Linked DNA regions of Homo sapiens. The protein of the gene in region 4 purifies or fractionates together with the protein of the main gene of each other region. This does not show direct contact. Each region holds a gene or a part of one and is shown on either strand. Other genes may lie near its edges. The genes, in order: FASTKD2, RPUSD4, METAP2 and DDX28.

The links.
Region 1: the proteins of DDX28 (region 4) and FASTKD2 purify together in Homo sapiens (affinity purification with mass spectrometry; 2 studies listed by BioGRID and IntAct, with this or other methods). This does not show direct contact.
Region 2: the proteins of DDX28 (region 4) and RPUSD4 purify together in Homo sapiens (affinity purification with mass spectrometry; 2 studies listed by BioGRID and IntAct, with this or other methods). This does not show direct contact.
Region 3: the proteins of DDX28 (region 4) and METAP2 purify together in Homo sapiens (affinity purification with mass spectrometry; 2 studies listed by BioGRID and IntAct, with this or other methods). This does not show direct contact.

Annotation. Positions count from the first base shown.
Region 1 is NC_000002.12:206,789,202-206,796,712, reverse strand, and holds the end of FASTKD2 (FAST kinase domain-containing protein 2, mitochondrial), read right to left. Parts: intron 6,142-7,511; coding exon 6,027-6,141; intron 5,031-6,026; coding exon 4,911-5,030; 3' UTR 524-4,910; downstream 1-523. UniProt on the Homo sapiens protein: Plays an important role in assembly of the mitochondrial large ribosomal subunit.
Region 2 is NC_000011.10:126,201,432-126,208,942, reverse strand, and holds the end of RPUSD4 (pseudouridylate synthase RPUSD4, mitochondrial), read left to right. Parts: intron 1-3,161; coding exon 3,162-3,255; intron 3,256-3,330; coding exon 3,331-3,475; intron 3,476-4,614; coding exon 4,615-4,712; intron 4,713-5,285; coding exon 5,286-5,525; 3' UTR 5,526-6,847; downstream 6,848-7,511. UniProt on the Homo sapiens protein: Catalyzes uridine to pseudouridine isomerization (pseudouridylation) of different mitochondrial RNA substrates. Acts on position 1397 in 16S mitochondrial ribosomal RNA (16S mt-rRNA).
Region 3 is NC_000012.12:95,476,969-95,484,479, reverse strand, and holds part of METAP2 (methionine aminopeptidase 2), read right to left. Parts: intron 1,266-7,511; coding exon 1,200-1,265; intron 1-1,199. UniProt on the Homo sapiens protein: Cotranslationally removes the N-terminal methionine from nascent proteins. The N-terminal methionine is often cleaved when the second residue in the primary sequence is small and uncharged (Met-Ala-, Cys, Gly, Pro, Ser, Thr, or Val).
Region 4 is NC_000016.10:68,020,107-68,028,209, forward strand, and holds DDX28 (probable ATP-dependent RNA helicase DDX28), read right to left. Parts: upstream 3,127-8,103; 5' UTR 3,097-3,126; coding exon 1,474-3,096; 3' UTR 810-1,473; downstream 1-809. UniProt on the Homo sapiens protein: Plays an essential role in facilitating the proper assembly of the mitochondrial large ribosomal subunit and its helicase activity is essential for this function. May be involved in RNA processing or transport. Has RNA and Mg(2+)-dependent ATPase activity.

The DNA.
Region 1 (7,511 bases), on a different chromosome or scaffold from region 4:
GGAGAACAAATGGAAAATAAAGGCAGGTGTGTTGGTTTCTCCCTTCCTCTGCCTCAGAAGCTTTATTGCTGCCTAGAGAAACCTGCTCAGGGTGGGGTGACATGTAAAACCAGCCAGCAGTATACACAGGTGTTCCTAGTGGGTCTTAATAACATTAAGTGTCTGTAACCCTGAGTGAAATTCTTTTTAAATTCTTTTTTCTTTTTTGAGACATGGTTTCACTCTGATATCCAGGTTGGAGTGCGGTGGCACAATCTTGGCCCACTGCAGCTTCGACCTCCTAGGCTCAGGCGATCCTCCCACCCCAGCTTTCTGAGTAGTTGGGACCACAGGTGCATGCCACCACACCCAGTTAATTTTTCTATTTTTTGTACAGGTGGGGTTTTGCCATGTTGCCAGGCTGGTCTCAAACTCCTGGGCTCAAACGATCCTTCTGCCTTGGCTTCCCAAAGTGCTGGGATTACAGGTGTGAGCCACTGTGCCCGGCCCTGAGGGAAATTCTTTAAAAGCAAAATTCACAAACTTTTAAAGCAAAGTATCCAATTTTTATTGATTCTATAACATATATATGTGCATATATTGTAGTATCTTTATCAATCAGGATTTACTTGCTGATAACAGAAACCACTGCAACCTAGTTTAGACACAATGTGCTTTTGTTAGTTTCTGGCCATGCACAGAAGCCTCCTGCTTACAAGATGAATGGAAAGGCTGAAGGAGCAGCCTTTAGTCTGACTTCCAGGAATGACTCTCAGAACACTATCACATAACTGGCTGTCCAGAAGAGATGCTATCTCTGCTTACAGCCTGGAAGCTGGAAAGTCATGAAGATGCTGCCCATTGCTGGCTCCAGAGCCACATTATTTTAGCCACAATCCCCACCAGCAAAATGGATGCTCCTCGTCCTGCCACACCACACCCTGGGGTCTCTGTTATTGCTCTTCTAGAAAAATAAAATGCTCTGTGGCTGTTTGTTGGCAGAAACATTACCTCTATCTCATTTGGCCTTCCCAGTTTCAAGTAGGTACATCTGCATAGAGGAAGCTAAGTCACATTTGGAATTCAAGCTGAAAGGGGCTCTGGGAAATGTAGGCTTCAGCTTTTTTTGGATCCACCAGTGAGTCACGGCACACCTGTGTGCACAAATGGGTTACAAGTGTGTTAAGAGATAGCCATCTTGGACCGGGGGTGGTGGCTCACGCCTATAATCCCAGCACTTTGGAAGGCCAAAGGCGGGCAGATCGCAAGGTCAGGAGATCGAGACCATCCTGGCTAACATGGTGAAACCCTGTTTCTGCTAAAAATACAAAAATTAGCCGGGCATGGAGGTGGGCACCTGTAGTCCCAGCTACTCGGGAGGCTGAGGCAGGAGAATGGCTTGAACCCAGGAGGCGGAGCTTGCAGTGAGCTGAGATCACGCCACAGCACTCCAGCCTGGGCGACAGACCACGACTCCGTCTCAGGAAAAAAAAAGAGATAGCCATCTCCTGCCTTCTGGGCAGCCACTGCCCTCCTGGCCAGGAAGCTCCACACCTAGGTCTCCCTACAAGTCAGCGCAAAACAGGGTGGAGTCTGATGGTCCACCTCTCAGGCCCTGTGAATGAAGAGTATGAGAGAGATCTGTCCTTTGCTGCCTGGCTGTGATGTGCTGTGTGAAGACAAGGCTGTGCCACGTCCCTCGCCAGCTACCTAAGTGGCTTGCTGCTGAGTGAGCCACTGACCATCATAACTGCTGGGTAATTTCATGGAAAAGTGCAGTCAGTTGGGATTTGAGGAATGCCAGCTCCTCATAGGTAGTTCCAAGTAGATGCCCCAAATCTCTATCTTACAGAAACTTCTATTTGCTTAGAGATGTCCAAGCCAGTTGCAGGGTGACTACCCTCACAACACATGACATTCTATAAATTGGAATGTCATTGTTATTTGGAAATACTTGATATGAATAGTTCAATTGCATTTGAGGTCCATGTGTATTATCACAAAAAAAATACCATCACATTTTGTCAATGACAAGAAGAGTTGTTAGGCTATGTATATATGAAATTTTCAATTTTTGAATGTTTTTTAAAAGTTCTAAACTGTTTAATCAGCTTTGTGTAAAGAAAGTTTCTATTCAGTGGTAACTACTGAGAATTCGGAGAGCTGGTAAATGTCTCAATCAAGAATTGAGCTGGGCACAGTAGCCTGTACCTATAATCAGTCCTATCTACTTGAGAAGCTGAGGCAGGAGGATCCCTTGAGCCCAGGAGTTTGAAGCTAGCCTGGGTAACATAGCAGGGCCCCATCTTTAAAAATCTAAAAATTAAAATTAAAAAATAATAAAAAAGAATTGCATGTAGCTATTTCAAGAATACAATTTTATATCTTGTATCTAGAGCAAGATCAACCTTTTCATTAGGGATTCTGAAAAAAATATTTGGATATCTCACACAAAATGAGCATTTAATATATTTCCTAATTTTTTTCTATGTGTGCCATAGATCAGTGGTTGTTTAGGGGACAGAGAAAAAAGCAAAGACAGGAACCTTTTAGAGGTGATAGATATATTCATTATCTTGATTGTGGTTTCACAGATGTGTGTGTGTGTGTATGTACGTCAAAACTGACCTAACGGTACACTTTAAATATATGCAGTTTACTGTATGTCAATTATACTATAATAAAGCTATTTTTTAAATTATGGGAGAAGAAAACCCCACAAAGTACATTCCAGAAAGGTATTAATTTACAGTCTACCAACAGCTTATGCAAGTGCTTGCCTCATTATACCTTCATCAGCACTGTAATTCTTAAAAGAAAAAAAACTGCTAATTTGAAAGGCAAAACCATCTCTTCTGTTTCAATGTGCATGTCTTTACAAGTAGACTGAACTTTTTTCATGTTCATCAGCTCTTTGCCCATTTTTCTTTCATTGACACAAAGCAATGAAGAATGCTAACACTAGAATGCTAGTAAAAGAGGGATGCCTTTTTATCTGCCAGGTTAACTAGTACAAACTGAAAATTACTACCCTAAAAGGTGGTCATAAATATTCACAAATTTGTCAAATCCTTTGAAGAGGAGTCATAATTAGACACTCAAAACTGATGCACACTCAACATTTAAAGACAAAACCTTAGTTCCTTTAATAACAGAATATCTGCATCTTGTTCTGAAGCTTATAAGGTTAAATCACTTGGCCAAGTATACAAAACTAGAGGTTGTCCAATCTGGAACCAGAAGCCTGATCTCCTGGGACACAAGCTGAAGAGCAGGTGAGGATGAAATGATGTGGAACCAATGGCATAGCTGAGACTTCAGGAAAGGAAAATTCTTTGAGCCTTATCTTCCTCGTCCATAAAATGAGGGAAGTAACAATTAAATAATCACTAAATTTCCTTTCAGCTCTAACCTTTTCTAAATGCAAGCTGGATAAATTGATACAACCTGGCAGCTGTTGTCATATTGCTATAGTTTTTGTATTTTTTTTTTTTTTTTTTTTTTTTTTTTTTTGAGACAGAGTCTCGCTCTGTGGTCAGGCTGGAGTGCAGCAGGACCATCTTGGCTCACTGCAATCTCCACCTCCCGGGTTCAAGCGATTCCCCTGCCTCAGCCTCCCCAGTAGCTGGGATTATAGGCATGCACCACCATGCCCGGCTAATTTTTTGTATTTTAGTAGAGATGGGGTTTCACCGTGTTGGCCAGGATTGTCTTGACCTCCTGACCTCATGATCAGCCCACCTCGGCCTCCCAAGTGCTGGGATGACAAGCACGAGCCACCGTGCCCAGCCCAGTTTTTGTATTTTCTTATAAGCCTATGTTAGCTCACATTCAAACTCCAGCCCTCCCCTACTCTGTGTAGCCTTGGGCAAATACCTATCCTGATTTTAGAGATGAGGAAGTGAAGACACAGAGAGAATCATAATAGCAGCTACACCTCAAAGGGTTCAGATCATGAAAAGGCAGCACACAAATGAATACTTAGCAGTGCCCGGCACATACTAAGATGTCTAGTAATTGCATGTCTGTGTGCTTGGGGGCAGAATAACACCAACTTGCATGGAACCCATGCTGTAAGTTCCACAAGAGACCATGCCTATTCATCACTATATCCCCAGCGAGCCAAATACTAGGTAGACAGGCATATTGAACAAAATAGTTGAATTTGGACAAATATTTGAACAAAGAATGAACACACATAATCGAAAAAATAGTCCTCAGGTCTGATTCACAACACAATTCAGCTATATATTTAATTTAAAAGACTTCATGAAATTGTGGGAGGGGTAAGGGGGAAAAAAGAAAGAGAAAGGAAGGACCCCAACAACAGTAAGACTCCTTACCATCTACATCTCATCTGTGTTTCTCTTATTATAACCCATGAAATATCTCTACCTGCAGTGCTTATTACAAATACAAATACCATCCTCACTCATTTTCAACAGCTACCTCACTAATTCTTACACACTTGACAACTTTAGAACTTTGTCCAATTATTATTTGGCCAATGCTTGAAAATGATTTAAAGGCATAACCCCAAGTCTTAGAACAGCTTAGAGCAGGAGTATAAATATTCAGATTCCAAAGACAAGGACTACTACCCACATCAACCTGCCTGTGACACCTCACAACTAAGAAACCAGTTTTTAGTAGATCAAAGATGAAAAGGTGAAACGTACAGCTCACAAATCAAATATCTGGGCACTAGAGGGAATAGGTGTGGTTGGAAAAATAACCCTTCTGGAATTTTCTCAGCATATTTTTAAATGGCAGTAACAACATTTCTTCCACTCCTAAAATTAATTTTAATAGTGAACTGAGGTAACATTTTTTGTCTTAGCAGATAGCTCAATTCCATTGACAACTGACTTGTCATCTTTATTAATTTTTACAAATGCATGTCTCCTAATATGAAAAGGTTGATTTTCACTTTATTGTGTGCTTTGCACATTTACAGCAGCAACAGGAAGAGCTTCTACTGAATAGATTTTAGTCTTCAAAAATGTGACTGCATCTTCCATCTCTAGTTTGTCCATCTCCCAGTTATTGACCTTACCAAAGAAAGAGGAAAATAATCAGTTTGTGAGACGATACTAACAAAAGAGCTAGTTTAGAGATCCAAACATAGTAAAGTAACATGAGGACAATAGCTTTTTGAAAGCAAATGTGACCTTATAACTACTCATATTTTAAAGGCATAATAAGACTACATGCTAGGGTTTAAGAAAGCTTTAACTGTGAAAATTATACAAATTTTAAAGGTCCTCTAAATGGTGCAAAAACTGCTTTCTTGAGAAAATCTTCCTTAGAATATATATAATCAGCAATATAAAAAACAAAGTCTTAAATAGTAGCCCACTAAGAGAAAGGAGTCATCTTAATCTCAATAGTCCACACGTAATCCATTTCCAATACTAAAGTATAATAATAGAAGACTTGGAATGTTTACATCTTACATTATGCGCAGGACCAAATGAGTGGCATTTAGATAGATTCCAACAGCAACATATATATAAATGTATTTGTAAGGTTCCTACTACCTAGAAACATCAGAAGAGGCTGTTCAAGAGAAGCTGTGGGGTACAAAATAAAATTGAAGCATAAGAGGGAAGAGAAAGACCCATCTTCTTAAAACCATCCAGCCTTTTCTGGCAACAAACATCCTGTAACAGCTTCACACAGGCCATGAAAACAAAGCTTTAACATCTTTCCTTCCCTTGTTCAAGATAACCTGGAAATTAAATATGGTTTTGTGTATCTTAAATATGAAAATATATTATTTGCATTCTTCTTCTTAGCAAAAAAGGATTAAAGCTGACCAGAACAACATTTGTAAAAGCTCTAGTAATGACAGTAATCAGCTGAGCAGAACCCAAATCGTGTACTAGCAATGTTCTTTTTCAAAGAAAACAGTAACTAAAGCACTCATTCCAATAATGCTGACAATTCCTCTAGTCCTAGTAACCAGTCTCAACCACAAGATTCCTGGCAGCTGTTAGAATGTACATCAGTAATTAAAGAATATTTCATTTGCATTTTTTTCTCACCAAGATCACATGAAAACCCATTGCATTCAAATGCCGCATTTTCATAGCAAGGAATCCTCTGGGGTGGCTTGAACCCAAACAATAAGCAGATCTGGAAACACATAGCACAGCTACTCTGAAAACAAAAATAAACAAAACAAGAACAGTTATTGATATTACTATTTAGTCTTGCTGCATTCTTGTTCTCTGGAGATTTCCAAGTTGAGCTCTCCACCGACCACAATCCTTGATATTCCTGTCTTAGTCCTTCACTTCTTTTACTTGGCCTCTGCAGATATTCCACTATACAAGGCTACTTTATAAATCAAAAATATACAACATTATACACAGTTACCTCTCAGTTCCCTTTAAGGATGGCTACATTTTTGAAGAGGAAAATTTTCAGACATGAAAGCACCAATTTTAAGGGTTTTCTGTGTAGTGCTGATTTCTGATCTGAGTATAATTATTTATTCTACCAGTAGTAGTAACGGTGTAAATAATACCAAATAGTAAATGCTCTTCTTACACATATCATCTCCCAGAGAAAGCAGCATTTAAAAAACAGAAATAGGAGTTTAAATACAAGAAAGAAAACACCAAGAGAAAGGCAAGACTGTTAAAATAAAATCTGTAAATATAACGAAAATGTGGAAGGTGTAATTTGTTTTTTCATTGTTCCTGGCACTTTGGAAATACTAAGTTTACTGGGAGAAAAAAAGAAAAAAAAAAGACATTTATATCCTTACTGCCTTCACCTATACTCTGGCTGTTATAAGACAAATTTTATGTTTTTAAAGGAATGCTCACATTCTTCACTTCTCATGACTTTATGCTGAGAACAACTGTTATTTTATTATGCCAGAATAGCGGAGTACCCGAAAAAGAAAACTGATCTTGGAATGAGGTCAGAGAGAAAGCCTCTTCTGAGGGGAGATGGGTAGCACTAATAGGAAAGACAGCGGTTGAAAAGATGGCCAAGAAATAAGCTAGATGCATTCAGAAAGAGGTGAAAGTCACAGAACTGTGTGTGAATGAAGAGGGATGGGCAGATAAGAGCTTGGATCCCTACAGATTTTTTTGTATGTTTCTATCATATTTATGTGTGTGTGTGTGTCCAGTGGAGTTAACAGAAGATACAAGTTCCTTGGGGTCAGGATCCATGTAGCAGAGCTTTTACATAAAGGGTAACTGACCCACGGGTGTGTGCAATGATGGCATGATCTTATGCATCTACTGAAGAGGCAGGATGTTCTCTCATGGTATAGCATCATATTTCTCCCCAGAGACACTCTATTTGTAATGTGTGAGCCAAAGAAACAACTTAGGATTAGCTTCAATGTGCTCTAACCCATACAAATACAGTTTAATTAAAAAACTACGGTTTCTCTACCTCTGGAAAAGTCTTGGTGGTAGAGCAAAATATTTATTGGGTATTTGATTTTTGTAGAAGCCTCGAGTCTTTATTCTTTATGATCACTATTATATTATCTTGTCCAAAGTCTA
Region 2 (7,511 bases), on a different chromosome or scaffold from region 4:
AACAACAAAGATCATGTGAAAAACTCCTGGAGAATCCACCCATTCTGCCATTCTAGTGTTTTCTCTTGAGGTAACAACCCATGTAATCAGTTTGGTTTTTTTTCCTCTGGTTCTTACTCAACGCATTTACATATATGTCTAGTGTATACAGTATACGCGTGTGCGGCGTACGCAGTATACGCGTGTCCGGCATACGCAGAATATGCGTGTCTGGTGTACGCAGTATATGCGTGTCTGGTGTATGCAGTATATGCATGTGTACATATGTATGTACACATATATATCTATATATATATCACATTGTACAATTTACATTATACTTTTTTCCTCTGCTCACCTCTATGTCTTGGGGATCATCCTGTGTTAGCACATAGAGGTTTACCTCAGTGTTTTTCATAGAAAAAAGATGCGTGAGCAAAAAAGAAACCCTCTATTCCCCATCTGTGCAGTTGCCTTCCCCAGCGTCAATCGCTGTGACTGGTGTCTTCTGTAAACTTCCAGAGTTATCGAGCATATATAAGCATATTACTGTATGCTAGTGTATTTCACACAGAGTTTTGTACCCTACAGTTTTCACTTGGATCATATATCTTAGAGCATTTTGTGTCATACGTTTAGAGCTGTCTCCTTTTTAATTGCTCTGTGAAATACCGCTGTATGGATGGATATTTAGGTAATTTCTCATTTTTTAGAGCCTATTGCAAAGAATATGTGAATGTATTTTTAAGATAAATTTCTAAAAATTGAATCGCTGGGCTGAATGGTTTGTATATTTAAATTTTAATAGTACTCACATTGCTCTCCACAAAGGTTTTTTATCAGTTTACATTCCCACCAGCAGTGGTGAGTACCCACCTCCCCTTATCAGCCAAAGCATTTTTAAAGGGTTTGCCACTGTGATAAGTTAAAAAAAAAAAAGATATTTTCTATTTCCTTGTATAACAGTGATATTGGCTATCAATTTACATGTTTTTTACATGTTTATTGGCTATTTGAGTTTCCCTTTTGGGAACAGACTGATTATTTCTTTTGCCTATTTTTCTACAGGGTTGTTTATTATTATTATTTTTTTTTATTTAAGACCGTGCCTGGCCTTTTTTTTTTGAGATGGAGTCTTGCTGTGTCACCCAGGCTGGAGGGCAGTGGCACAATCTTGGCTCACTGCAACCTCCTCCCTGGTTCAAGTGGTTCTCATGTTTCAGCTAGCTGGAATTACAGGCACATGCCACCATGCCCAGCTAATTTTTGTATTTTTAGTAGAGATGGGGTTTCAGCCTGTTGGCCAGGCTGGTCTTGAACCCCTGACCTAAAGTGATCTGTCCATCAAAGTGCTAGGATTACAGCGCTTACAGCTCACAGGCGTGAGCCACTGTGTCTGGCCCAGGTTGTTTATTCTTTTCTATTTGATTTGTAAGTATTCATTTTATATTTTGAATGTTAGTCCTTTTTAGATTACAGATTTTGCAGATACTTTGTGAATCTGAGGAGCCCTTTAAAAATATGTATGATTGAGACTTACCCACAGAAGTTCTCATTCGTAAGTGTGGTGGTTGTGGGGATTGGCATCTGTATTTTAAAATTTGATATACAATCAAATTTAAGAACTATGATAAGATTATGGAGAATGGAGGAATTTAGGACAGTAGCTAAGACCTCAAAAAGATGTGTGTTCAACTCTCAACTGTGTCATTTAACAGCTGTGGGGCCTTGGGCAGGTTATTAAATGTCCATAAGCTTTGTTTTCTTCATCTGAAAAATGGAAACAGTAGGATTTATGAGATAGTTAAATAAGATTGATTCTTGTGAAATGTTTAACACAGTACCTAGTTCATAGGAAAAGTTAAAAAATAAAAAATAGAGACTTATTTTTCTATTCAAGCAATCAAAATATTAAGACTATAAAATACATGTTATGTTATTTGTGAAAAATGTCCATTAAGGTTCAAAATTGGTAACCATTCTCGGTATCAGGTTCATGGAGGAATTGAAATCAATCAGTTGGGTCTTGCTGATGGAACATTCTTGAGTTGTAGTGTCATATCATTAGGAAGGACATTCTTGTCACAGAAGATCTACAAAATCTGTAAAATACGATAAAATGTACCAGATAGTAGCTGAAACTGAAGTGGAGTGTCTGCGTTGTGAAATAGTGTGTGTGAGTAGGATTTTGACCCCGTGGTTAGTGATTATACAACCGACCACCAGGTACCCAGATGGACTTTTCCATCATTGACCTGAAAGAGGCATAAATTTACAGACAGATTAAACAGTCTTCTACCTGTCTGTGAGGTCATGAGGTCATGGGAGGGAGAACACCAACAGAAGTGATTTGGAATGAGTTATTGAGTTGTGGTTGTGGTACCTATGACTTCTTTCTTTCTTTTTTTAGACGGAGTCTTGCTGTGTCTCCCAGGCTGGAGTGCAGTGGCATAATCTTGGCCCACTGCAACCTCCACCTCCTGGATTCAAGCGATTCTCATGCCTCAGCCTCCCAAGTAGCTGGAATTACAGGCACGCGCCACCACGCCTGGCTGATTTTTTTTTTGTATTTTTAGTAGAGATGGGGTTTCACCATGTTGGCCAGGCTGGTCTTGAACTCCTGACCTGAAGTGATCCACCCGCCTTGGCCTCCCAAAGTATTGGGATTACATGTGTGAGCCACCACGCCTGTCCCCTGTGACTTCTTCGGGTACAGTTCCCTCCTGTTTTACCTATGTGGCAAATGAGCCAGGAACGGTTCTCTGAATGTTTTATTAGGTTCATTCATCCAATTATTCATTTGTTCATTTACCATGCAGTCAGAATCTACAATCTTTTATTATTTGAAAAAAAATACAAAACTATATTACCATAATTTTATTTTAACTGTACATATCCATTTTTAAAGACTGGAAAGACCATGTTATTAATGTAATTTTTTTCTTTTTTTACCCCAAATATTCTACAATTAGCATGTATGACTTTAGTAGTAAAAAAGATAAGCTTGTGAAATCTATCAGCTCTCAGGCTAAGCATTACACCAAGAGAATCTTGCACGATCCTTCAATCATAAGAAATCACATGTTAGTGCAGAAGGTCCAGCGTGAAATCCTCTAAGTGGCCAAATCTAGGAGTTCTTCTCTGGCTTGGTTGGCTAAAGCAGTGATCTGTGTCACCCCCAGGGCCATCACTGTGCATGTCCCCATGCCCTCAGCAGGAGTCGTGGACATCCCCATTGTGGAGAAGGAGGCGCAAGGCCAGCAGCAACACCACAAGGTGAGCGAGCAGCCTCCCTGAGGCATGGGTTGCTGCTCTTCCTTGGGAATCATATCTTGATTTCTTTGGCTTCAGATGACATTGTCCCCGAGCTACCGCATGGACGATGGGAAAATGGTGAAAGTGCGGCGCAGCCGGAATGCGCAAGTTGCTGTAACTCAGTACCAGGTGCTCAGCAGCACTCTCTCCTCCGCCCTCGTGGAGCTCCAGCCCATCACTGGTGAGAGTGTCACTTTTCCGCAGTGGGATCACAAAACCCTGTGCCACCAGGTTTTGTCCAGGGCCTCGTTCTGAGCAGCTAGTAGTGTGGCTGACTTGTGTGAGAATGTGCTTCTGGTGCTGATCTGAGGCCGGGGACTCCCAGAGAGATGGTTGTGGCTAGCAGAAGAATACAAACAGGTTGAATGCCTCTATTTAAAACTGTGTAGAGTGGTTCCTCAAAACGATTAAACAGAATTATTGTAAGATCCAGCAGTTCCACTTCTGGGTATATACCCCAAAAATCAAATATTTGCACACATATTCATAGCAGCGTTATTCACAGCAACAAAATGTGAAGATAATCCCAGTGACCATTGGGGGATGAATGGAGAAACAAAATGTAGCATACACATAAAATAGAATGTTATTTTCAGCTTTAAAAGAATTAAAGGAAGGGAAATTCTGACACATGCTACAATATGGATGCACCTTGAAAACATTATGCTAAGTAAAATAAGCCAGGCACAAAAGGGCAAATATTATATGATTCCACTCATGTGAGGTACCTAGAAGAGTCAGATGTATAGAGACAGAAAGTAGATGGTGGTTGCCAAAATCTTAGGGTAGGGTAAAGGAGGGGAGATAAATAGGGAATTGTTGTTTAATGGGTCCAGAGTTTCAGTTTGGGAAGCTGAGAAAGTTCTAGAGATGGATGGTGGTGGTGGTTGCAAAAACAGTGTGAATACACCTAATGTCACTGACTTGGCATTTAGTATAATGCCAGTGGTTAAACCAGGAAATTTTATGTATATGTTACTACAATTCAAATAATGTGCAAATCAATACTACTTATGTAGTAAAATTACTAAAAAGTTGGGGTAATGGTAGACGGCAAGTTCATGATAATGGTTATCTATGGTGGAAAGAGGGAATTGTGGTGGGGAGAGGTACTTAGAGTATTTACGGCGTTTACTTCCTAAACTGGCTGGTGCTACATAACTTATAGTTTGCTATATTATTCGTTATACTTTATTATAGTTGGGACTTGGCCAGTTTACTGCACTTTGATGTAACACGATTTGAAGCAGATGCCAATACTGGTATTGTTTCTGTAGCTCCTCACGAGTTTTCTCTCTTTCTCTCTCTCTCTCTTTTAAGGAATAAAACATCAGCTTCGAGTTCACTTGTCTTTTGGATTGGATTGTCCAATCCTTGGTGATCACAAGTACTCAGACTGGAATAGGTTGGCCCCCCAGGTAATACTAATTTGACCCAATGTGCAGCAGATACGGGAGAGAACTTAGGCGTTCCTTTTCTTAAAACTCTGAAATGAGTTACAACAAAGCCTACTGATTGTCTTCAGACATGATACCAAGCTCATTATCTTGATTTTAGAGAAATTTAGGAGCAGTTGGTTACTGTCCTTGTGGAACTGCAGGATCTGTTAGTGAAAAGCTTACTGTTACATTTGTTTATTCAGATTTTGTTGGGAGGCTGTGGACAAGGGGAGGGGTGTTTCTGAAGGCTGGGAGCAGCTTTTCATGGTGCTACTAAAAAACCGCAGGGAAAGCCTTTTCATCCTTATACCACAGCCCATTCTCTTGTTAGGCCAAAAAGCACTGGCCAAAAAGAATGTCTTGGTGTGGTCATTTTTCCCTTACCTGAGTTCTGAGCCGTTCTTAGACATGCCACTGAAGCAGACTCTCCATTACTGTGTCTTCCAGGGGGTTAGTTTTGGTTCCCTGTAAGTAGAAGTGCCCTGACCTTGCATGTTCGTCAAGGGTGGACTGTTGGCCTTGCTCTCAAGGGTCTGTCCTTTCTTTGTATAGAAGCTGTCTGTGGGCACCCTGAAGAAGCTGGGGCTAGAACAGTCGAAGGCCCGCTACATCCCCCTTCACCTGCACGCCCGGCAGCTGATCCTGCCTGCCCTGGGGTCCGGGAAGGAGGAACTCAACTTGGTCTGCAAACTTCCTCGCTTCTTTGTGCATTCCCTGCACCGCCTGCGTTTAGAGATGCCAAATGAGGATCAAAATGAGAACAATGAAGCCAAGTGTCTGGGAGCACAGTGAAGACCATGGGAGCACCCTGGCACCTGGGAGCACAGTGAAGACCCTGAGAGCATCCTGGCACCTGGGAGCGCAGGTTGGCCCCTGAACTGTTCTTTGTTTACAGGACTCTGCTAACTTCTCACTTGGAACAGACTGCGTAAGAGCCAGGTGGGATAAGGTAAAGCAACTCAGCTGCTACAGGGCTTTTAATGGAGAACAAAGTCTATTTACTGATAGTTTGGCTGCACTGTGGAAAAGCCTGCTGGAAGTCTCCCTGCCGTGGGCTCTCATTGCCAATATGGAACAGAGCCCAGGGCCAGGCAGACTGGGGCAGTGACTGGAAAAGGAAAACTAAAGGTCAGAATCCGGGATCAGGAACTGTTTTTATCCAGCAGTGAAGCTCTTGAGCTCTTAGGAAGGTTCCCGTGGTTGGAAAGAACATAATGGTTAACAAATATCACAGCATCCAGGGATTGCCCAGCTATAGTGTGGGTGCCCTACTGAACTCTGATTAGGGAACCTGTATAAGGGTATTGAGTGTGAGGTTGAGGTGGGACATTTGCTGAGCAAGGAGAACCGATGTGAATGGCAGGCAGATAACATGCACACATGAAGCTGGCTGGGTGTAAGGCAGTAGCGGGGAGCGGCATGCTGTCTAACAGCTGTTAGCTCCAGCTGGTTGTTGCCATGTGGGAATGGATTTTCTCATTTCTTCAGAGAAGCTGGAAACCTAGATATTTATGTGAAACCTCCCAGTGTATTGCCAACTAAATCAAATTTTTAAAGATGCTTAGGCACCTAAGCAAATAATACTTAGAGGTTGAATTTGGTCTACAGGCTAGCAGTTTGCAGTCTATGTTTAATGAATGGTATAGAAGTTTGGGGAAAGGTGCCATCTTGAAAATTCTGGATCAGTGGTTGGCATTTTCGCTGCGTGTAGTATGTATCCTTTCTAGGCTTGGAGATGGCTTTGGTTGGTCCGTGAATGTAGTTATGAGAGTGCTGCCATTAAAAAATCAAAAATCTCTGTTGTGGAAGCGTATCTTCTGTTCTTAGGTCTCAGGAAGGAGAGGGCTATACTGAACACCATTAGGGATAGATGGAAATGACCTTGGCCTCCCTGCTCAGCTGGTCCATCTAGTTTCCACCTTGTTTCTTGCAAACAAATACACCTCACACTACTTTTTCTTTCTGACAGAGTTGGAGTGACAGCACAGTTAGGGGGGTACACCCCGGGACAGTCTTTATATGTTCCCTCTGTATAGATGATGCCACTTTCTAGCCCTTTCCCTGTCTCCATGGTACCCATTACTGTGCATAATAAATTTAACTTTGAAAGCACAGACGAGATGACTATATTTGTTTATATAAGACCTAAATATTTTTGCTGTTATTTCTGTTTCTAGTAAACCATGCTAGTCAAGAAAAAGGAACAAGAATGTGACACTTAGGAAATAGTGATAATTGACATTAATTCAGGGAAACAGATGAACAGGAATACCCACAAGAATGGAGAAGAGGCTGGGCGCGGTGGCTCACACCTATAATCCCAGCACTCTGAGAGGCCGAAAAGGCCGAGGCGGGCGGATCACCTCAGCCCAGGAATTCGAGACCAGCCTGGGCAACGTGGTGAAACCCTGTTGCTACAAAAAATACAAAAATTAGCTGGGTGTGTTGGCACACGCACACCTGTGGTCCCAGCTACTCAGGAGGCTGAGCTAGGAGGATCACCTGAGCCCAGGAGGTTGAGACTGTAGTGAGCCATGATTGTGCCACTGCACTCCAGCCTCGTGACAGAGTGAGACCCTGTCTCACAAAAAGGAGAACAATCTTAGAGGAACAGATGATGGAAATAAAAGAACTGGAAAATGTAGAAAAGTAGGAGCTAGTCAGGATACATTTTGGAGAAGTAACAGATGATTTATATTCTCATATATAAATATGGTCTCCTCCAAGATGTAAATCTAGTCTTTAATTTGGCAAACTGAATATTTACTAGGCTGAAGG
Region 3 (7,511 bases), on a different chromosome or scaffold from region 4:
GGTATCTCTTAATTCATTCTCAGGTAACACTATTTCTTATAGCCAAACTTTTAATAATTTTTTTTTAATGGAAAGAATAGGACAATATAGCCCCTGGAAGATTCCTGGAATGCAAGTATCCTGTGCTCATCAAATACAGACTCATGGGCCCTCACAGGCTACGAGAATAGCTGACATCCTCTTCTTAGAGTGGAAGGATCTAGTAATGATGGACGCCTAAATGCAAAGAAGGCTATTCCACCTCCACCTGGAGACCAGGGGAATCACTACCAAGCCCCCAAAATTCTGATTCATAAAATTTTAGCCTGAAAAATTTTAAAGGAAGGCATAACCAGACATTCAGTGGTCTACAACAGCCCAAATGGCATCCAAGATTAAAACTTACATGTTGTGATTCTCAACCCAACCTTTCTTCCTCAACACTACGAAATCTCCCTTCAGCCTCCTTAATATATTTTCGGGCACCTGATGATGTTTGGTTGTGGCACTTACAGAAACTCAAAACAAGCAGGATATTTTATACAAATCTGATCGTACAATATAAAAGTTATTATTAATAATAAAGTCTCACCATATGCACACATCTTAAATAACGGGATTCCTCATTAAATACTCATCAAGAATCTCATAATTTAAAAGCTGGAAGGTAAATTACAAACAACGCTTACCCTACCACCACCATGGCACCACTTCGGCCATTCTTGACAGAATTATTCTTTAAATTATGCAAGTTTTAAATCATAAAATTTTTAGAAACTCATCCCTAACTTGCAGTAAAATGCAACCAATTCATATCGACATCCCTTAGCTAACAGCTAAAGAAAATAAAGGATTGTTAAACCAAAGTTATTAAACTAATAAATAATTATTAGTTTCACTAAATTCTGCTTCTATTAAGCCTAAGTTTATTTCCCTAACATATATCAGGACCTTAAGCAACTTCAAACCTACTCTTCAAACCTGTCAGTGAATAACCACTTCTTTTTTTTTTTTTTTTTTTTTTTGAGACAGAGTCTCACTCTGTTGCCCAGGCTGCAGTGCAGTGGCACAATCTCAGCTTACTGCAATCTCCGTCTCTTGGGTTCCAGCAATTCTCCTGCCTCAGCCTCCGGAGTAGCTGGGATCACAGGTGTGAGCCACCACACCCGACAGAATAAACACTTCTAATATATCAATTAACATTAACTTAAGACACTAACGTCCTCTCTTCTTCTTCTTCTTTTTCTTCTTCTTTCCAGTTGCTCCATCTCCATCGCCATCTCCATCTAAGAAAAGACATTTCAAGTACATGTTCATTTAAACCTCATAAGCAGAGGGACAAAGCAAGTACAAGGAGACAAGTATTTGCTCTATTCAATAAATGAACAAACGTTAGTTTATTTTATCTTGTTTACATTTATTCTTTCACTGAAATAAGAAATAGGAAGCAGCTACCAGGTGTGGTGGCACATGCCTATAGTCCCAGCTACTAGGGAAGCTGAGGTGGGAGGATCACTTGAGCCAAGGAGTTGGAATCCAGCTTGGGCAACATAGTGAGACTCCAACACTAAAAAATTTAGAAACAGGAAGCAGCAGTTTAGCAAAGTGGGAGGTAACGTGATCTAGGACTTACGTGGGTTGAACCATATGAAAATGCCAATACTTGACCATTTTTGGTCAAAATTGCCACTTCTTTTCTTTCTTTTTTTGAAACAGGGTCTAGCTCTGTTGCCCAGGCTGGAGTGCAATGGCGCAATCTCAGCTCACTGCAACCTCCGCCTCCCAGGTTTGAGTGATTCTCATGTCTCAGCCTCCACCTCCCAAGTATCTGGGATTACAGGTGCATGCCACCATGCCCATCTAATTTTTTTTTTTTTTTTTTTTAGTAGAGATGGAGTTTCGCCATGTTGACCAGGCTGGTCTCGAACTCCTGACATCAAGTGATTTGCCAGCCTTGGCCTCCCAAGTCCTGGGATTATAGGCGTGAGCCACTGTACCCAGCCTCAAAATCACCATTTCTTATGTTCAATCTTATGAAATTATCAAAAACCTAGCAGGCAGAAGAGAACAGTAGAAGTACAAATATTAGGCTAGGTAAAGTGGTTCACACCTGTAATCCTAGCACTTTGGGAGGCTGAGGCAGGTGGATCACTTGAGCCCAGGAGTTTGAGACCAGTCTGGAGGACATGGTGAAACCCTGTCTCTACTAAAAGTACAAAAAATTATCCAGGTGTGGTGGTATGCGCCCATAGTCCCAGTTACTTGGAAAGCTGAGATGTGGGAGGATCACCTGAGCCAGGGAAGTCAAGGCTGCAGTGAGCTGAGATCGAGCCACAGCACGTCAGCCTGGGTGACGGGAGGGAGATCTTGTATCCTAACAACAACAAACCCAAAACACAAATATTGCTGACTTATTCATTATGGATTTTTAGATTCAAAAGCCTAACAAAAGGCACACGAAAAATTATAATCTAATTCACATATCGTGCACTGTAACGTTAACAGTAACCTTCTTCACCCCATTAAATGTTTGTTGGGCTCTTAAGTGCCAGGCAATAGGGACAGAAAAATAAGATAGTTTCTGTTCTGGAGAAACAATAGTTTTTTCCAGACTAAAACTGGTTATGAATCTTGAAGTATTTGTTTTAGGTTGTGACTAGTGTATGTAGCACTATACCTAGTGTATGTAGCACAACCTAAAACAAATACTTGAAGATACATCACCAATTTTAAACATATACTAAAAATCTTTCCATCTGGGTGACCTTGGGCAAGTTATTTAGCCTCCCTCTACCCTGGTTTCTTCATCTTTAAAATGGAACAAAAAGGTCCTTCTTTGATACTTTCATCCTTTTGAGGCTAATTACCTTATTCAATGTCCAATGTCTGTATTCAGTACAGAAAAACAGCCACCATTTATAGAACTTTGTGCCAGGATGGCAGCAGAGCCAGGATCTGAGTATTAATCTATATATGTTTATAGTTCCAACCATTATACCATGTTGAAATTTGTGCTTTTACATGTCTTTTCTTCACAGTATCCCAGCATATTCTTCATAGGCAGAGATGGTTGGTTTTTTTGGTTTTTCTGTGACAGGGTCTCACTCTGTTGCCCAAGCTGGAGTGCAGTGGCAGGATCACAGCTCACTGCAGCCTCAATCTCCCAGACTCAGGAAATCCTCCCACCTCAGCTTCCTGAATAGCTGAGACTACAGGCACGCACCACTATACCTGGCTAATGTTTTTTAATCTTTTGCAGAGACAAGGTCTAAGTTGCCCAGACTGGTCTCGAATCGCATCTCAGCCTCCCAAAGTGCTGGGATTATAGGCATGAGCCACCAGGCCTGGCCAGCAGAGGCTGCTTATGTTTATTTGTGTTACTACTATGCCCAAATCAGTTGATATCTGTTGAATGACAACTGGAAATCATATTTTAAAAAAAAGAGTCTCAAGCTTTTAAGCTCTGCCTTGCACTATCTAGAAACATTAATTCTAAATGAACCATAGACCTAAACATAACAGCTAAAAATATATAAAACTTCTTGAAGAGAACACAGAACATCTTTGTGACCTTAGAGACAGCAATGACTTAACTTTTTAGACAGGACACAAAAAGCACTACCCATAAATTTAAAAAACAGATAGATTGGACTTTATCAAAATTAAAACTGTCCTATAAGCAATACCATTAACCAGGTGAATAGCCATCCCATAGAAATATCTGTAAAACATATTATCTGATAAAGAACTTGCAACCAGAATATACAATGAACTATTACAATTCAATAGGATGACAAATAACCCAATAAAACATGGACAAAAAATGTGAACAAACACTTTACCAAAGATAAAGGAAAAAGCAAATAAAAACATGAAAAGATGCTCAATATCATTAGGGAAGTGCATATTAAAACCACAATGACAAAGCACTACATACCCATTATCAAAGACTAAAATTTTAAAACAAATACCAAGTCCTTACAAGGATACGAACAACCTGAAACTCTCAACCATTGCTAAGAGGAATGCAAAACAGCATAGCCACTTTGGAAACCAGACAGCTTCTTAGGAGTTTAAACACATACTTACCATATGACAGGCAACCCAGTCCTATTTACTCAAGAGAAATGAAAACATATCTACACATAGACCCATATGCAAATGTTCATAGTAACTTCGTTCACAACAGACCAAAACTGTAAACACCCCAAATATTGTTCAATGTAAAAGGGTAAAACATATTAGGAATACTACTTGCAATAAAAAGGAATGTGCTATTGATAAATGCACAACTCGATGACTGTCAAAAGTATTATGCTAAGTAAAACAAGCCAAACACAAAAAACTACATACCGAATAATTCCATTTATAGGATACTCCAGGAAAGGCCAAAACTAGGGTCAGAAAACGTATCAGTGATTGCTAAGGGTTAGGTATAGTGCAAGAGAACCAACTACAAGAGACACAACTTTTTTCTGGAGATGGAAATGTTAAATGGAAATAGTCTGTATCTTCCGTCGTGGTAGTAGTTACACAATTGCATACTTTGTCAAAACTCACCAAACTATACACTTAAAAAGGATGACTATTGGGGCCAGGTATGGTGGCTCACGCCTGTAATCCCAGCACTTTGGGAGGCTGAGGCGGGCGGATCACTTGAGGCCAGGAGTTCGAGACCAGCCTGGCCAACATGGTGAAACCCTGTCTCTACTAAAAATACAAAAATTAGCTGGGAGTGGTGGCGGGCACCTGTAATCCCAGCCACTCAGGAGGCTGAGGCAGGAGAATCGCTGGAACCCGGAAGGCAGAGGTTGCAGTGAGCTGAGATCGTGCCACTGCACTGCAGCCTGGACAAGAGTGAGACTCCGTCTCAAAAAAAAAAAAAAAGAGTGGTGACTATTATTTTAGGGAAATTATATGTTAATGAGCCTGACTCAAAATGTATTGAATGAATTACCTCCAGCACACTGTCAGATGACCACAGGATCAACTTTTTATACCAATACCACAGTTTCCAATTCAGCACATCTAAAATTAAACTTAGTACCCTCTTCTTTGCCTGCAAACCTCTCCCCCAATGTCTAACTGGCTCTTTCCCAACTTCACTATTTCAGTCAACAGCACCAACATTCTGTCACCCAAGTGCAAACTCCCAGAGTCCACTAATGCCTTACTCCTGCTCCCAGAATGCAAGTCTCCAAGTCTTTTGAATTCTGCTTCCACACTACTGTTCACTGGATCCTTCCTCTCCATGCCTATTTATGACTATCAGTTTACATCTTCATTACCATATGCCTGGGCTATTTCTAAGAGGCCTCCAAAATGATCTCCTCCTTGCCTTTCCTACACACTTCCTCTCCTCTAAACAACCCTGTATACAGGTAAAGCCTAAATTATTATTTCATAACATTCCTTTTTTGTTAAGAGACAGGGTCTTACTATGTTACCCAGGTTGGAGTGCAGTGGCCAGTCACAGGTGTTTTCGTAGCATACTGAAGCCCCCTGGACTCAAAGATCCTCCCATCCCAGCCTCCCAAGTAGCTGGGATTACAGGCACCAGCCACTGTGCTTGGCTCATAACATTTCTTAAAAATCCTCTAAGGCTCCCTCAATCTATCACCTCATATGGCAAGCTTGTATTACCACAATGCTTCAAATGTTTTCTCAGCATTACCCCAACCCAAAATAGTTCCTTTGTTTGGTTTTACTCAAGTTCTATTCCTTCCAATGAGCCTTCCTTCGGCATTCAGCCCACACTTATACCACCAAATTTCAATAAATTTTATTACAGGTACCCAAATACCTTTTCACTTCTAGGTTTTGTCTGTCTACCACATCCTTAGTTTTCTTTATTTTTTCTTATTTTTTGAGACAGAGTTTCACTTTTGTTGCCCAGGCTAAAGTGCAATGGCGCAACCTCCACTGACAGCAACCTCCACCTCCTGGGTTCAAGCAATTTTCCTGCCTCAGCCTCCCGAGTAGCTGGGATTACAGGCACCCACCACCACACCTGGCTAATTTTTTGTATTTTTAGTAGAGATGGGGTTTCACCATGTTGGTAAGGCTGGTTTTGAACTCCTGACCTCAGGTGATCCACCCACCTCAGCCTCCCAAAATGCTGGGATTACAGGCGAGAGCTAACACACCTGGTCTAGTTTTCCATTAGGAGAAAGATCTTGAAACACTAGCTTTCCATTCCCTCAAAGACCTAACAACAGGTAAGTAGTATTGACTGACTCTGATTACTGAAATAACTACAAATATTCCTAAAATCTTCTTTAATACATTGAAGATTTCCAACCTGATGGGCAACTTTGTAGAGATGTAACAGAACAAGATAACACTTCAAGATTAGCACTGTGATTTTTTTTGGGGGGTGGGGGGAGGTGGACGGGTATAGACATAGGGTCTCACTATGTTGCCCAGGCTTGTCTGGATTACAGGCATAAGCCACCACACCCAGCCAATATTTTTTAACTAGCCTGACAGGCCCAGGAAGCATTATGATACCATATACACAGTGGGTCTATAGCAATCTATTATATTGCCTTGAATTTACAAAACATTTTCTTGTGAAGAGCTCAAAATAAGTTCATAATCTAAAGCATAAGCCAATGTAGAACAGAGGTTTAAGGAAGAGGAAAAGCTAGTAATTCCCTTGAATCTTGGCACTTTTTTCCACCAAATGTTCACTATAAGCTTCTTGAAGGCAGAGAACATACCACTCTAAAGGAAAACAACTACTCTACATTACCCTAACACAATAATTACAGCCCCAACTAATGGTTAAAGACCTAACCCCAGGCTGGTGGTGCTTGAGGGGGAGCAGATGTTCTCAGTAGTAGGCAGCTACAAATAAAAAGAATGGGAAAGCCCCATTTTTCCTCCGCCAAAAGAGGCTGGAAAAAAGTTAAGTTTTCTTACCTGTCTCTTCCTTCACTGTTTTACTGATAACATCAATTAGCAGTTGCTGTCTTTAAAAAAATCTTATTGTACCCAAACACCCAGAAGGAGCTAGGGTCAAGGAATTTATAATAAAACTTAGTGCACTCCTATACGATTCTTTCAGAATGAAAAGAGTTAATTTTGGTATAGAGAGTAAAAGGAACAGGCCGGACACAGTAGCTCAAACCTGTAATCCCAGCACCTTGGGAGGCTGAGGTGGGCAGATTACTTGAGGTCAGGAGTTCAAGACCAACCTGGCAAAACCCCATTTCTACTAAAGATACAAAAAAATTAGTTGGGCATGGTGGCAGGCGCCTGTAATCCCAGCTACTCGGGAGGCTGAGGCAGGAGAATTGCTTGAGCTCGGGAGGTCGCAGTGATCCGAGATCACGCCACTGCACTCCAGCCTGTGCGACAGAGCGAGACTCGGTCTCAAAAAGAAAAAAAAAAATAGAGAGTAAAAGGAACAAACGTGCAGTCAGGCACTAGGTTTGAAATTCTGGCTCTATTCTACACATATTAGCTATGTCACTTTGGGTAAATCATGTAACTACCACTTCCCTATCTGTAAAATGAGATGGCTGGGT
Region 4 (8,103 bases):
TGGGACTCTGGGAAAGGCAGTACAGCATAGACAAATGGTTTATCAATTTGGGAGGGCCCAAGTATCACCTGGGGGAGTTTACAAAGAGTATTCTCAGGTCAAACTTTAGAGAGCTTAATCCCATCTGGAGTGGGGCTCAGGATTCTGTTATTTTTTTTGAGACAGAATATCAGCTCTGTCACCCAGGCTGGAGTGCAGAAGTGCAATTTTGGCTCACTGAAACCTTCGCCTCCAGAATTCAAGCCATTCTTGTGCCTCAGCCTCCCAAGTATTTGGGATTACAGGCGTGCACCACCACATTCAGCTAATTTTTTTGTATTTTTAATAGAGATGGGGTTTCGCATGTTTACCAGGCTGGTCTTAAACTCCTGACCTCAGGTGATCCTCCTGCCTCAGCCTCCCAAAGTGCTGGCATTACAGGCGTGAGCCACCACACCCGGCTTTTTTTTTTTTTTTTTTTTGAGATGGAGTCTTGCTCTGTCCCCTAGGCTGGAGTGTAGTGGTATGATCTTGGCTCACTGCAACCTCCGCCTCCCAGGTTCAAGTGATTCTCCTGCCTCAGCCTCCCGAGTAGCTGGGACTACAGGCGCGTGCCACCACGCCGGGTTGATTTTTGTAATTTTTTTTTGTGTATATATATATATACACATATATATATACACGTATATATATATACACGTATATATATATATACATATATATATATACGTATATATATGTATGTGTATATATATATATACGTATGTATATATATATATATATATATATATATACGTATATATATATATAAAGAAAATGCTATATGGTTATTTTTCCAGTTTTGTAAAACCGTTTAATCATCTCTCCTCTTTCTCGGCTACCGAGTTGGGATAGAAGGCAGAACCTGAAAATGTACAAGCAAAACTTCTGTGTTCGTCTACCCTTTACTTTTCTGCCAGTACCTTCCAGAGATTTCGCCAAGACGCCCGTTTGTCTTGGGCATTGTTAGAGAGTAACTCTGTCTACTGCTAGTCACATTTCCTTTCCTTTCCTTTCCCTGGGGGCTTAATGGATACCTTTTTGGGGGCAGGAAATACAAACTAAATGTTTATAAATGAAAACATCAACTGAAAGAGCCTTTGTCCTAGATGTGGAGGTTTGGTGTATGAATCCTCAGAAACTACTGAATTCCGCCCCGGTGCTAATTATTCTTAGGGGAGGCACATAAAAACATCATTTATTGTTAGAAATCATGACATGATACAAAGTCAAAATCCACTTGTGTCTTGCTAAAGACTACAGAAAGCCATGCTCAGCAGCTTCTTCTCCAATGCTGGCCAGCAGCGTACCTTTCCAAGTCACAAAGCAGTTCATCCCGCCCTCAAGGAGCCGACAGGGCAGCCCAGAGCCTCCCACTGACAAGTGTGGTCACCCACTCAAGATACTGGGAAAGATCCCTGTTCTAGCATCACATTTTAATCAGATTTGTCAAAATCAGGTTGCTTGGGGCAAAGGCTCTTTCACCGAGGATGCTAGTCCTGGAAGACTTCTCCTTCGGCGAGCCGCCAGCTCAATCTTCTGAACCAGGCTCACATCCCAGGGATGGGTCACAAAACTGATGACGGTGCCTGGCACCTCGCTCCCCACACGGCCCACTCTCCCTGCTCTGTGGATGTAATCTTGCAGCGTTGGGGGGAAATCATAATTGACAACCAGCTCCACACCAGTGCTGTCCAGGCCCCGAGAGGCTATGTCTGTGCAGAGAAGTATGTCTCGGGAGCTCTTCTGGAAGGACTGGAAGATTCCTACCCTCATCAAGGCTGGCATTTGCCCCTGCAACCTTAGGTGTTGGATTTTGTGGTCATCCAGAATATATCCCAGCCAGTTCACAGTGCTGGAGCTATTACAGAACACCAGAACAGTTCCTGAGGGACCAGTCCTTTCTGCTCTGTCACGATGCTTGAGGATGTGCACCAGCTCGGCCACCTTATCTGCTCCCTTCAGTCTCAGAAATGTCTGTTTCACATGAGGCATGATACAGTGGAGCTTGGAGCTGGTGATGGTGGTGACAGCATCTGGGCTGGCGACTTTATTCAGCAACTGGCCTACACCTTCGGGAAATGTGGCTCCTACCAGCACTAACTGAGCTTTGGGATTGAAGGGGTCTTCCAAGTCAGCTGGGCCTTCTGCTATGTGGCTCTTCTCTAAGATGTAGTCCACCAGTTCCAGGAAGCTTTCATCCAGCAGTGTGTCTGCCTCATCCAACACCAAGAAGGAGAGTTGCTCCAGACTGATCAGTCGACTTTTCAGGGCCTTCCACAGAGCCCCTGGAGTGGCCACAAGCACATCTGCTGAAGGCTGTCTGGACAGCTGCAGCCTGATCCTACGCATGCCGTGGCCTCCCTCCAGGTCCCGCACCAGCAGGCCCAAGGAGCGGCCCAAGGGTTGGGCCACAGCCCGCACCTGTTGGGCCAATTCTCGGGAAGGAACAAGGACCAGGCCTCGGGGCGCGGGGATAGGAAGGGAGTCCAGGCTTGGCTGGCCCAAGAGCCGTTGAAGCAGCGGCAGGAGGTAGCTGAGAGTCTTGCCACTGCCGGTTTCTGCGGCGCAAACGACATGGCGGCCGCGAAGTAGTGAGGGGATGGTGCTAGACTGCACGGTTGTGGGCTGAACGACTTCAGGCGCAGCCTCCTGTAGTGCGTGCAGCACACGGGGCTCCAGGCCCAGGTCAGCAAAGCTGCCCTTAGACGAGAGCTTTCGCACCGCTGGCGCCTCCTGTTGCGCGCGCTCGATGGAGAAGTGGTCCCGACGCGCGCGTCGACTCTTCCAGCCTTGAGAGGCTAGCGGCGCGCGCTCCCAACGGCCCAGTGTGAGGCGCGCCGGCTGGTTCAACTCCGGCCGCCGCGCCGAAACCAGCAGCGGTCCGGGTCGAACCAGCACCGGCCTCGGGAGGTTCCGCCGCCTGCTCTGCCGCTGTTCCAACTGCCGCTGTAGAGCCACTGGGATGCGCACCACCGGCAGGGGTTCGTCGGGACTGCGGACCGTGAGGCCCCGTCGCGGCGCCAGGAGCAACCGAGTCACGAGGGAAAAGAGCCGCACCGGCCGCGTTAGAGCCATGTTTCCCTTAGTGCGGGAGAAGCGCACATCAGTGACGTCACGGACGCGCCGCGACCTCGCGTACGGTGGCTGGCGAGGCTCAGTACGGTGTGTGGAGCTGGAGCACCGTGAGGAAGAAGCGAGGTTCTTTTTAAGAGTTCAGCTGCGAGGTCTGTAGCTCCGAATAGGGGATGGCGACATCCAGACCCGGCCAGCCTTGGGGAAGGGCGCGTCGTGGAGGCAGGACTGGAGGCTGGCGATACGAGGCGGCAGTGGGGCCTTGACCCAATGGACCATGAGGGCGGAGGGCTTCTGGCGATTGGTTACCTGGTTCCTGGGATTCTCTTTAGTTGTTCCTCATTGCCCTGAGATAGCTTGTCCCGTGCTGGTATCCGAGGTTGCAGCTGTTTTCCCAGATGTGTTCCCTGCGCAGGGTCTGGTAATCCGTGTTTATTGAGAGTTTGAATGAATGATCAGGCCTAGGGGCCGAGACAGGGGTCTGAAGTCATAGATCTGGGCTCAACCCCTCACCCTCTCTGTCTGTGAGCCCAGAGTGCAAGCTGATGGCTTTCAGCTTCTTCTCTCTCTCAAGTGGGAGATAAGGTCTTCAGGTTTTATTTCAAGTTGGGTCATCTTTTCTTCACAGTTATTTTCCTTCCTTTTAAGCCAAGGTTCACTCTCTACTCCCTCGTCACGCGTCCCAACTTCTCATCCAGAACCCACCCCTCTTGCAGCCCGCTCAGCTCCACTGGCTTCCCCGTCAGAAACCTGAATTACCTAAAATAGTAGTAAGAAGGGTGCTGCGACCCTACAAAGTGATCAAGTACGTGGCTTATCATGTAGCCCTGGTCAGGCAGAATATTTTACCTGAATTCAGATATTCGGGTTGTAAAAACAAGAACTATACGAGTCACTTTTTTTTTTTTTTTTTCTGAGACACAGTCTCGTTCTGTCACCCAGGCTGGAGTGCAGTGGCGCAATCTCGGCTCACTGCAACCTCCACCTCCTGGGTTCAGGTGATTCTCCTGCCTCTGCCTCCCAAGTAGCTGAGACTACAGCCGTACACCACCCACGCCCGGCTAATTTTTTCTGTTTTTAGTAGAGACAGGGTTTCACTATGTAGGCCTGGCTGGTCTCGAACTCCTGGCCTCAAGCGATCTTCCCACCTCGGCCTCCCAAAGTGATGGGATTATAAGCGTGAGCCACCATGCCCAACAGATACTTCTTGAACAGATCTGGAAAATGGGTGTCAGATCTTTTCTGTAATTTGCAGTGCCTGGGGTGGGAGATAAGGTAAATATTTATGGATTAACTCTCTGGGAGGTTCGTAACATCTGGAGAAAACGTTTTAGTTTCATCAAATACCAATGAAAAGATAAAAACTTTGCTTTTTTTGGAATAGTATGAGGAAAAACTTTCACAATTTTAAGTACACTCTACCCTTGTGCTACACAATTAGACTTTCTGGAGAGTTACCAGATAAATCAGAGGAAGAGAGGCTTTTTTTCTCCACAAGAAAATATCTGGAAGTAGGAAGAGAAAGTTTTGAGTAGTGATGGGTGAATGAACAGTCATTGGATAGGGTAGTGGTTCTAAAACAAGGGTGATTTTGCCCTTTCCCTCCCACCATATTTGACAATGGCTGGATACTTTTTTTTTTTTTTTTTTTATAGACAGTCTCACTGTGTTGCCCAGGCTGGAGTACAGTGGTGCGATGTCAGCTCACTGCAGTCTCTGCCTTCTGGGTTCAAGGGATTCTCCTGCATCAGCCATCTGAGTAGCTGGGATTAGAGGTGTGCGCTACCACTCCCAGCTAATTTTTGTATTTTTAATAGAGACAGGGTTTCACTACGTTGGGCAGGCTGGTCTCAAACTCCTGACCTCATGATTTGCCCACCTTGGTCTCCCAAAGTGCTGAGATTACAGGTGTGAGCCGCTGTGCCCGGCCCAATTCTATGCTACTTTTATGATTCTTTCCAAACTCAGGGCTTCTCCTTATCCAAATAGTTCCTTGGGGCCAGGCTCATGCCTGTAATCCCAGCTACTCGGGAGGCTGAGGCAGGATAATCGTTTGAACCCGGGAGGCGGAGGTTGTTGCAGTGAGCCGAGATCGCACCATTGCACTCCAGCCTGGGCGACAGGGCGAGACTCTGTCTCAAAAAAAAAAAAAAAAGGTCCCTTGGATGTTTGTCCCAACAGGTTTCATCCATTTCCATGTGCCACTGTTTTTCAGATATCAAACAAAGAATTACTCTGTACAAAGCCAGAACACATATATCAAAGTAATCCTGAAGTATCAGAACAAAATAATAGGTATGTATATGCATTTGGGTTTTTGGGTTTTGTTCAAATATCCAGGGTAGGGTAGCTGGTTAATATATAGTTGTTTTCTCATTATGCTTGAGTCCTTACAATATGATTACCTCAAAATTTCACAGGAGTTAGAGCTTGCCTAAGCCTGTCTGTGTCCGTGGCCACTAATTTCTTCTTGTCACATCACTAGACACTGCCTACCTTTTTTCCCCCTCACTCACAGAGGACATTGATTAACTTCTAAATGTTTTCTGAGATATTTTTATAAGTAGTGCTTTAGAAATAGGAAAGGTATCCTTATTGTGAAAAAAAATCTAAGCTCCTGAGATCAGGAGCTTGGTGTGTTCCTTGGATCTCAGTTAATAATGGTATATTCATTCATTCATTCAATCATTCATTCAACAAATACTTCCTGAGCACCACGCATGTGCCAGGCATTGGTAGTGAGGAAAACAGCCAAAATCCCTGCCCTTGTGGAGTTTACATTCTGATTTAATTGATTTGGGTTAAGGCCTAGACAAGGTCTTGCTCTGTCACCCAGGCTAGACTTCAGTGGTGCCATCTCGACTCACTGTAACCTCTGCCTCCCAGGTTCAAGTGATTCTTCTGCCTCAGCCACCCCAGTAGGTGGGATTACAGGCACGTGCTACCAAACCCGGCTAATTTCTGTATTTTTAGTAGAGATGAGGTTTTGCCATTTTGACCAGGCTGATCTCGAACTCCTGACCTCAGTTGATCTGCCTGCCTTGGCCTCCCGAAGTGCTGGGATTACAGATGTGAGCCATTGTGCCCAGCCGAGAAATTGGTATTTTTAGAAACCTCTCCAGATGTAACTAGGCTTGAGAATCACAGTTATAAATGAAGCACTTTGGGAATTGCAAAGCATTACAGCAATAAAAAGTGCTATTGGTATTACTTTATTGTTCCTCCATTTTCCCACCTGTAGCAGGGCTGTGCGCAGGTAATCATATTTTCAGTCATTATCACTATAGTATTCCTGGACCCTTTGACCTTCCTTCTCATCCAGCTCCCTACCTGCTCTTTGTTTTTTACCCTCTGGTCTACCTTCTGTTTCCCGAGTGATGTTATTAAAGCACAGCTAGGCCTGGTGTGGTGGCTCACGCCTGTAATCCCAGCACTTTGAGAGGCCAAGGCGGGCAGATCACGAGGTCAGGAGTTCAAGACCAGTCTGGCAAACGTGGTGAAACCCTTTCTTTACAAAAATACAAAAATTAGCTGAGCATGGTGGCAGGCACCTGTAATCCCAGCTACTCGGGAGGCTGAAGTGGAAGAATTGCTTGAACCCGGGAGGCGGAGGTTGCAGTGACCTGAGATTGTGCCATTGCATTCCAGACTGGGTGATAGAGCAAGAGTCTATCTGAAAAAAAAAAAAAAAAAAAAAGCACAGCTATGGCCATGTTACCCTTTGACTCAAAAGCCATTCATGAATCCTTGTTGCCTGCAGATTATTTCCTAATCAGTATCCAGAATTGGGCTCAACCTCTTCTGTTGCTTTCTTATGTGAATCTTGTTCACTCAAGTGATGGCTCCATGCAAGTTGGCCAAAGGGCTTGTAGTCCTTTACTGGGTAAGCCAGAGATTGGAGTAGTCATTCGTCTCCTCTAAAACCAAACTTGAGTGATAACAAAGCACTTTAAATGCACTTTGGCTGGGATAGAGTTCTTCTGTGACTGAAGCATGGAGTGGATCATAGCTCTTGTTGCACTTGGTCCATTAACTTCTTGTTTTTTTTTTTTTTTGGAGATGGAGTTTTGCTCTTGTTGCCCAGGCTAGAGTGCAGTGGCATGATCTCAGCTTACTGTGACCTCCGCCTCCCGGGTTCAAGTGATTCTCTTGCCTCAGCCTCCCAAGTAGCTGGGATTACAGGCATGCGCCACCACACCCGGCTAATTTTGTATTTTTAGTAGAGACGTGGTTTCTCCATGTTGGTCAGGCTGGTCTGGTCTCAAACTCCCGACTTTAGGTAATCCGCCTGCCTTGGCCTCCCAAAGTGCTGGGATTACAGGCGTGAGCCACCTCACCCGGCTGCCATTAACTTCTTTTTACAGCAAACACTAAGCATCTACCATATGCCAGATTGTATGCTCTCTGATGAGGATCTGGTGATGAACAAGCCACAGTGCCTATTTTCACCTTACAGTGAAGAAGGCATATTGACAGATAGTTGCTCTTCTATTAATAGTTGCCAGGATAGCTCCATGCCAGGACAGGAATGAGCTCAGAGATGCCTTTACCCTGTTTTGGGAGATGTTGGTCAGAGAAGGCTTCCAGGAGGAGGTGATGAGGTTCTAAAAGTCTACAGGGAGTCAGCCAGGTGGAAGAATAGGGACGTGGCCCCTGGGCAGGGACAGCTTGTTCAGAGATCCCATACTGAGAGAGAGCAGGCCAGGCTGGGGAACTAGAAATATTTAAGAATAGCTGAAGCTTAGCATGGGGGAGTTCTGAGGGCAGGAGGCAGGTGATGAAAGAGGCTTCTATGGAAGGTGGAGACCAGACCTTATATTTACTGTGTTAAAGAGTGTAGACTTAATTTTACAGGCAGTAGGGAAGGCGTCCAGAAATGGAACTATCATGTTTTGCGTATCATATCTTTGCGTTTGGAAAGAGCCCTTTGGCTGGAAGGAGCATGGATTGGAAGTGATAAGCCTGGAGGCAGAGAGACTGGTTTGGAGACTGTTGTCATGGTTCAGTTGA